Linked DNA regions of Homo sapiens: region 1 is linked to region 2. Evidence: fine-mapped expression QTL. A gene starts in region 2. The other region holds a variant in brackets. All regions are shown on one strand. Distances are between the middles of the regions.

The links. PIP is the estimated chance that this variant, and not a neighbour inherited with it, causes the effect. A credible set is the group of variants that fine-mapping cannot tell apart.
Region 1: its variant is the best candidate, but not a certain one, in a credible set for the expression of LINC01738 in tibial nerve (GTEx, PIP 0.71).

Annotation. Positions count from the first base shown.
Region 1 is chr1:47,511,840-47,516,231 of GRCh38, forward strand. No RefSeq gene overlaps it. Among named protein-coding and RNA genes, the nearest start is that of FOXD2, 76 kb to the left of the region's middle. The variant G/T (reference allele first, on the strand shown) is at 2,411.
Region 2 is chr1:47,686,461-47,690,852 of GRCh38, forward strand. LINC01738 (long intergenic non-protein coding RNA 1738) reads left to right here and starts at 2,038. Exons shown (of 3, transcript XR_001738040.3): 1 at 2,038-2,122. It overlaps LOC124904174 (a long non-coding RNA gene), which reads right to left. Exons shown (of 2, transcript XR_007066067.1): 2 at 4,061-4,392. RefSeq lists enhancers at 380-1,068, 1,069-1,757.

The sequences.
Region 1 (4,392 bases), 170 kb before region 2:
CACAGTAAATCAAATCTATCTACTCACTTATTCTGGCCCACCCTAACCCTTTCCCTCCCAACCATACCCCTCCCACCCATACTTTTATCCATCTATTCATCCTTCCCATCCATCCATCAATCCCTTCATCCATCTACTCTTCTATCATCCACTAATCATGTAACGATCCATCTCTCCATCACGCATCTAGTCATTCACTCACTATCCACTCATCAACCATCCATCCATCAATATATCCACCCTTCCCTCCTTTTTTCTATCCATCCATCCATCATCCATCCATGTAATTATTCAGTCACCCACTGTTTATCCATTCATTCATCCATTTACTCTTTCACCCACTTATTCACTTATTTATTAATTCATTGAGGTACAACCATTCAAATAGTACTTGTTAGGCACTCTGGGGAAGGAAACAAAGGTGAATATGCCCTCAGTAAACTTGGGAGAGAGAAATAAACCAGGCTCACACCTACAGAGCTTACTTATTCCTAAATGTCAACAATCTAGGAACTTTCTCAGTAATTTGTAAATCAGTGTCCAGTGAAAGGTTTAGGCTCTAAGTGCAATCAGGAGAGGGGGCCAGTGTGAGGTGGGCTGCTCAGGTTAGGCTTCCTTTGCATTATAGTCCTCATGGAACCAGCTGGTATCTTAAGACACAATCCTGTCTGGACCAGCATTGAAGTTTTGCACTGTGCTTAGTCTTGATTCCATTCATTCATTTGTTCAATGAGTACTTTTTGAGCACTATTACCTGTCAAATTCTTGGGTGGTGAATAACAGACAGATCCTTGTCCTTGCTAATCTTATCATCTAGTGTGGGAAATTAATACTAAACAAGTGCCTAATATAATTTCAGACACTGATAAGTGCTATTAAAAAAGAGCAGGAGAAGACAGCAGGAAGGAAGATGATATTTTAGACAAGAAGATCAGGAAGGTTTTTCTTAGGAGTTGACATTTGGTCAAGAATAAGAATTCCTGGGAATTCCTCGGACTGGGAATTCCTGGGAATTTCCACTGGAGAAAGGGAAGGAGATGAACAAGGGGACTGAAATGGTGGGAGGCTTGGGTCCTTAATTGGAGAGAGAGGGACGATACATCAGTAAGCAGGAGCTAAAGTTTTCTTTTGAAGAACTCTGCTCAAGGAATCAGCCCTTTGTGGTCTACAAAGGGCATTCACTTGGTTTATCTCACCTGTTAGGGCATTTTCCTCATTTTTGGTGAGGAATGGAAAAGAGACAGGGTGTAATTTAACTAAGGTCCCAGAGTGGGTCAGGGATTCAGGTCTCACATCTGCACCAGGGTGGACTCCAGCTCCTAGTGCACACCTGTCCACAAAACCTCCAGGTCTTGGGTAGGCTGTGTGTGGGAGGTTTCTCCACCCTGTCAGTCCTTTTCTGGAGGTGAAGGTGTATTGGGGTCTAGTTCTTGGAGACTCCTGATTTCTCTTTTTAACGTGTCAGACCCAGGGAGTAAAAAGTGAGCCTCAGAATCCCCAAAAAACCAGGATAGGGTGGAGCTCAGGAGAGGCAGAAGGCCAAGACAAAATGAGTGCCTTGCCTTTGGGGACAGAGGAGACAGATTTTATTCACTCAACCTAAAAACAAGAGCCGAATGGAAGTCGTCGTAGGCTGAGAGTCCAGACACCTGGCCTCCAGCCCTGGTCTCTGGATTGCTGTGTGCCATGGTTTGGATATGGTTTGTCCTTTCCAAAACTCACATTGAAATTTGATCCCAAATGTGGTGGTGTTGGGAGATGACTCCTAGGCAGGGAGGTGTTTGGGTCATGGGGGTGGATCTCTCATGAATGGCTTGGTGCTGTTCTCCCAATAGTGAGACCTAGGTTCTCTGCTCAGGGCCTCACCAGGCTGAAATCCAGGTGTTGGCTGGGGCTGCAATCTCATCTGAGGCTCATAAGTCCTCTTCCAAGCTTGTTTAGGTTGCTGGCAGGATTCCATTCTTTGTGGCTATAGGACTGAAGCCCTCATTTTCTTGCTGGCTGTTAACTGGGCAATTTCTCTCAGCTCCTGGAAGCTGACCTAAGGTCCTAGCAGCATGGTTCTCTCTCAACATGGCACTTACTTCTTCAAAGCCAGCAGGAGAATTTCTCTCCAGTCTATTATAATGGAGTCTTACATGGTGTAATGTAATCTATGCCATCACTTTACCATATAATGTAACCTAATCAAAGGAGTGTCTTTTCCATCATATTTTTAGATTTTGTACATGTTTTCAGGTGTGTACACTGTGGGTGGGATTCTTGGGGGAGAACTTAGAATTCTGCTTATCACAAAGGCCCAAACTTTAAGACACAGCAATTTCTCTTTTTGCCTTTTTGAGAGTCCTGAGCTACGATATAATAAGTCCTGCTACTCTGTTGGAGAAACCATATGGAGAGGCTAGGGGAG[G/T]GATGGAGGGAGGGAGATACTTGGGGAGGGAGAGACCTAGATGCCCTAGTATCCCAGCTGAGTCAAGCCTTCCAGCCATCCCCAACAAGGTGCCAGACATATGAGTGAGTCATCTTGGGTATTCCAGCACAATTGAGTCCCCTGAAGACTGCAGCCTCAGCTTACATGTAGGGCAGAAGAACCACCTAGCTGAGCCCAGTCAGCCCACTGAGAGAGTGCACTAAATTGTGCAAGAGGCTTTCACTGACTCCATCTGCCAAAAGTTTTTTGTTCTGGGAGGAAACATGGTTCTGCCCATTGTATTTCTCAGTGATGGGAAACCTGTCTCCTGCATGGACATTTCCAAAGCAGGGTCTCCACTGGGCCATGATTGAAAATCTATCTGGTCCCTAGGTTGGTCCTTTCCTAATGATCTTGAGAGGTGGCATGGCTGAATGGCAGAAAAATTCTGGACAGGGAAGCCAGGGACCTGGACTGTAGCACAAACTCTGCTGTTACCCTGCTGTGTGATCTTAGAACTACAGCTGTCACGTCTCTGGTGCTTTCCATGTGCCAGGCAGTGTTGTAAGTGCTTTATACATATTCACTCGTTCAAACCACATAATAACTCTAGGAAGTAGGTACAATTATTACCCAATTTTACAGATGAGAAAATGGAAGCATAGAGATATTGAATCACTTACCTAAAGTTACATAGCTAGGAAGCCATGGAATCCATCTCTTTCCTGGACACAATGGTCTGATCCTAAGATTCTAGAATTTCATGGTTCTAGGAGTCTAAGATTCAACAATTTTTAAGGTTCTGGCAGCCTAAGATTCCATCAGTTTGAAGATCCTTGAATCCACAGATCATAAGCTTCTAGAATTCTCAGATTGCAGTTTGAAAAAGCAAATTCCTGCCATCTGCGAGGGTGGGGGTCAGGGGACATGATGGGGAATGACTCAGCTTGAGCCCTCGGCCTTGCTCAGCCCTCTGCTCCAGGAGTTAAAGATGTTGCCTACCCCTTTAGGCATTTGCTTCATTTATCTGAAACCCAAAACCTCTCTTGGAACTGGGAGCCCTGGGTGGTATGAAAGCAGGAGGGAGACCTCCTTGCCTGATAGGCCTGCAGCATCCACGGAGAGGGGCCAGAATAAGCAGTGAAACCAGGACTTGGAGTTCCCTGAGAATGATAACATTCTCTGTATCCCGCAGACCCCAAATAAACCCACGTTTTCCGCAGGCTCTGCTGAGGCCTGAGGAGAAAAGGGAAGGATGGTGGGAAATGGCTGATGTTTCCATAGGACCCACCACCCTGGGTGTTGTGTTTCTGTTGGAGAGGGGGCCACCTGGCTGGTGGCCCTAGAATAGCGGTACACTCCAGGACCACAGGGAGGCCATCCAAGCGGAAGCAGGGCTGGCCGGCTGTGTTGTATAGGCAAAGATAAGGAGCCAGGTCAGGGTTGACATGTGGAAGTGTTTAGGAGCCTGGGAGATTGGGCACTGCAGAATGACATATTCTGGAGGGACTAGGGGGCCCAGGGGTTACTGACTCCAGTGGCCTCATTCTATAGATGGTGAAACTGAGGGGAAGAGAGTTGTTGCCATGGTACATTTAACATGGGGTTCAATAAAATCTCTGGAATTGACCCCAATACAGTCAAACCCCTGTACTTCAGCTACACCAACTAGTGACCTTAACCCAAACTCTGGGCCTTTGCTTATGTTTTGCATGCTACCTGGAATGCAGTTCCACCCTGTTCTTTGCCTGTAGAAACACTTCTCTTGGAAGGTACAGCCCCAATACTACCTCCTCCAGGAAGCCTTCCTTCATCCCTTCCCCGTTTCTGATGTCCTCTCACCTGCTTCTAGGAGCACTGAGGGCATTTCATCTGCCCCTTCCTTTTGCTCTATGTCATATTCTCCTTCAGAGTAATTGATATGATTTGGCTCTGTGTCTCCATCCAGATCTCACCTTGAATTGTAATAATCCCCATGTGTC
Region 2 (4,392 bases):
GTTTGCAAAGTGACTGGTAAATTAATGTTTCTTGGTGAATTGCGGACAAGTTGTTTCTCAAATAACTGGCCATTTTCAATTCAAGTACTTGCTTAACTATATCCAACTGTTTTGTTTTCTGCCCCCACATAACTGAAGTTTTAACCCTGGGGAGGAAATACAATTCTAACTCCGGGCTTTTTTTAGGTGGCTTCAGCTGTTTGGTCCAAGAGGCCTGGCTGGTGTGGGTCAATGAAGAGGAGGTAATATCTTCTTAGGAGACCTCGCACAGGCTCAGTCAGCCCAGGGCCAGGAATTTTTATCACAAACCTAAAGATAAGCACCTCCTTCCCCAAAGGCAGGAGCAAGATCTGTTCCGGCAGGGTGTCAGAGAGGGTTGGGCTCAGGTTTCACTGTCTGCAGATTTGGAAGCTGAATGTACTCCTTAACAGCATCCCCCACCCCATAACGTCCCTCTTTCCCATCCATCCTCCTAGTCCCAGTCCTGGCCCCTGATCTAGAGCTCCCCAGAGAAGAGCAAAGACAGAGTCACTCAGTCAAGACAGACACATGGAGACAGGTTTCCAGAGCTTTCACTCCCACGAGCCCTGTGCAGCCAGCTCAGCACCACCTTAAAGCCCACTGCTTTTCCAATGGATGAGAGAAGGGAATTTACTTGTCTTTTCTTTTCAGTGGCTCCAGATCATACTCCAACTAGCCCTTCCCCACACCTGCGCTGCCCCATACTGACTTCAGGGGTCTGGAGAAAGGACACGGTCACCAGTGTGAAGTACGGGCCTGGTTTCCCCGGGGAGAACAGAGTCAGCCTATCTCCCTGCCCAACCTCACCACCTGAGGACCTGTCCAGGCCCCGTGTCTACACCACACCCCACTAGCCCTTGGCTGGCTCGGCCTGGCAGTGACCACGGGCCCCGGGCTCTCTTCTCTCCACCTTCCCAGGGCCTGGATGGCCTTTGAGTAAACAGATAGCCCAGCGAGGTATGTGATCAATTAGCTTTGCTGAAAATGCAATCATTTTGTTATTCCAAGCTGATGAGAAGGCCTGCTCTCCCAGCCTCCACATGCCAATCAGCCCGTGTCACCGATATAATTTTCCACATAAACACAACCTTTGTGCAACATCTACTCTTGTAAATAGATGTAATTCCCAAACCAAATAACGCACTTGGAGGGGAAATGGATATTATGCATGCAAAAAGAAAAGCCGGCGATTTTTACACTTTCCAGGCAACAAAAGATTACCCCTAATTGCGAACGGGGGAGGGGGTGGCGGCGAAGCAGGGAGGTGGCCCGCTGCTGGGAAGCCAGGGAGGCCAGCTTCCAGGCAGATTTTTTTCTCTCTCTGCACATGTGTGAGCACAGACCACCAGGAACTGCTTAACCGGGGACTTGTCCTGTTTAGGCAACTGGGGAGAACGTGGTTGTTGTTGTTGATATCTTAAAGGAAACGGAGAGTTACTTAATTATAAGGTTTGGTCTCTCTTGCCAGGAGAGACCCCCTCCAAACCCTAAACTATACACATCCTGTTGCAGAACTTCCTCCTACATTCCTGGTAGGGAATGGCCTCGCTGGGTTGTGGAGTGTGTGAGTTCCTCTGAAATGCATTGGTGTGTCTTTCTCAATGTTCTGCTCATTTAAGTGAATCCATAAATTAGACCTTGAAAGCAGCGGAAGTTCTCGGGCAGCCAGGGAGTGAGAACGCTGCAGAACCCACTTATAATCCTGGCCAGGTTCTGGGCACGGGCTGCTCCCTGGGCTCTCTGAATGCTACGGAAATGAAGGCTGGGACGCCTCTCCCGAGCCCCTGGCCTCTCCTCATCCCCTGGCACAAGAGGGAGAAAGCTCTTTGGGGTCACTGTCAGCCCCCTCAGAGCCCCGAGCCAAAGGGAGAGAGCAGCCCGGCACAGGGAACGGCAGGATTGCTGAGCTGCCCCCGTGTGGTGCCAGGGGGCCCAGGGGCCCCACAGGCAACCCCACCCCGGGCCAGGCGGTGTGGCCCACATGAGAGCTGACAGCAGCCTCTGGATGTACTCCCGTGCATCTGGAAGGGGAGAGAATCACAGACGATGTAATTTCAACAAGGACGATTTCGGTCTTTTGCAAAGACCCTTCTATTAGCAGGTGAGTAATCACATCTTGGCCTCAAGAAGGCCTCGATGTTTCCTATAATGCTTCTGGGTCTTTATTTCATCAAGGTTCAAAACAGTGTGTGAGGCGTTAGAAAGGGAGTGTGGGTCTCTATATTGACAGCGAGCCAACACGGGCGAGCGGGAAGGAGCAAGCAGCGTAACCACGGCTCCAGCTCCTTTCCAGGTTCTGTCCCCAGGCCTGGGAGGGGTGGACGGCCCCTAATACTTCAGCTACAAAACATTCTCCTATCTGACCCCCACCCCTCCCCCTGCCCACGGAACTCAGCCTAAGAACCCTCCTCTCTGAGCGTCCATCCGTCCCTGGCTCCCAAAGCCCATCTGAAACTCATTAGCTGCTTGAAATGATTGTCATGGGAGCCCTTGATGGGGAACAAGAAAAGGAGAGGGATACTTTTAAAGGACAGCAATCGGGACCCAAATGCTGGCAGATGTTTGGAAACCTGGCTTTTGAGGAGGGGCCTCCCGGAGGCATGGGGCCAACTCCTCGGCCTGACCCTGGCCAGGCCCCCACCTCCCATGCCTTTGTCTTTCCAGGCAGCTCCTGGAGCACTGGCTGGGTAAAGCAGCTGTCTTCAGGTCTCCTTTGCCACTGAGGAAGAATCCATGGCCATGGGATGTGCTCCAATCTGATTAGGAGGACAGCTGTGGAGGTCCCTTGATTCTTTGTCACTTGCAGCTTAATTCCTGCATTTTGTAGATAAAATGACTTTGTGTTTGTAATAATGATATCATAAAATATGAGACATGTTGGAATCATGATAGCATATAATATTAACGTTTCAGAACTAAGACTCCTTGACATTTAATCTTCAAAATACAGAACATTGAATAAAAAAAAAAATTGTATTGTAGGGTCTTAGAAACCCAGTATGTTAGAATCTTAGATTGTGGGAATTCTTGAAAACTTGATTTAAAAAATCATATAAATGCTTTAGATTTTTAGTAGCATAAAACATTAGAATTCTAGAATTTTAGGATTATGAAATCAGAATTCTAGAATACTAGAATTATAGAGCATTATAAATATAAAAGAATAAATTTATAGAAATACAGAATCATGACCTCTTTCAATCACAGAACTTGAGAATGGTGGAATATTAAATTAAGGAAACAATGATAGAATCTTAGAATTACAGGAGGATATTAGCATCATGGAATGGTAGAATTAGAGAACCATAGTGTTTAGAATTAGAGAATCATAGCAGTTTATAATTACAGACTCATTGGATTATAAACTCTTAGAATCACAGAACCTTAGAATCACAGTGTCTGTTAGAGAAGTATCAGATCTATGAATTACAGAATTTTAGAATTATAGGCTTTTAGACATAGCCTTGAAGAATTTCAGAGGCAAAAAGGGATTTAGAGGCCATTTGGCCCTACTCCTTGCTCAGTCCTATTCACACACACACACACACACACACACACACACATGCGTGCAAGCGCGCGCGAAACCTCTCGGTAACCCTGTGCTTATGTCTAGACAACGCAGTCTAATTTTATCGTTCCTTACATCCCCTAGAGCCGCCGACCTCCTTTTCTGTCTCCCCTCTCTGCCTGCCTCTCATCATTACAAATTCCTACCAGCCCCCTGTTTTTCAAGGGAGAGCTTGCTTTTCGTTTTGCAAATCATCCAGCATCTTAATTCACCATGCCTGTGTCTTGCAGGACAAGGCTATTTCAGTGATTAACATATCAGGGAAACGAAGCCTTGGCTTCATTTGGGATATGGGAGGGAGAGCAGGAGGGACAGGCAGGGGTGTGTGTGTGGCCTCCTAGAAACAGCATCAAGCAGGCCCACATAGGAACCCATGCTGCCCATTCCCTCTTGGAAGGAGGTGGGAGCCACGACAGTGGCTGCAATCATGCAGCCTGGCCTATCTAGGTGAAAGGAGATTCGAAACTGTAAGCCATTTCATGCTTATTTATTTTATGATCCTCATGGGCTGGGTTTACACAGATCGGACAACATGTGGATTAGATAATTTGCTGGGAATTAACAGCCTCCGATGGTTATCAGTCTTGGGGATTAAAGCTGGGTTGATGACGATGGTTCAGTGATGAGTTGATGATGTTATCCATGTCCTCATCGGGGTTCAGAGAGACGTGGTGGCTCATCACCCAGTCATAAATCCCCACCGGGACAGCATAGTGGAAGAGGATGGTTAGGTATCAACTGGAGATTAACACTTGGGATTCTATTACATTTAGGAATAAACCAAAAGCAAAACAAAGTCGGCT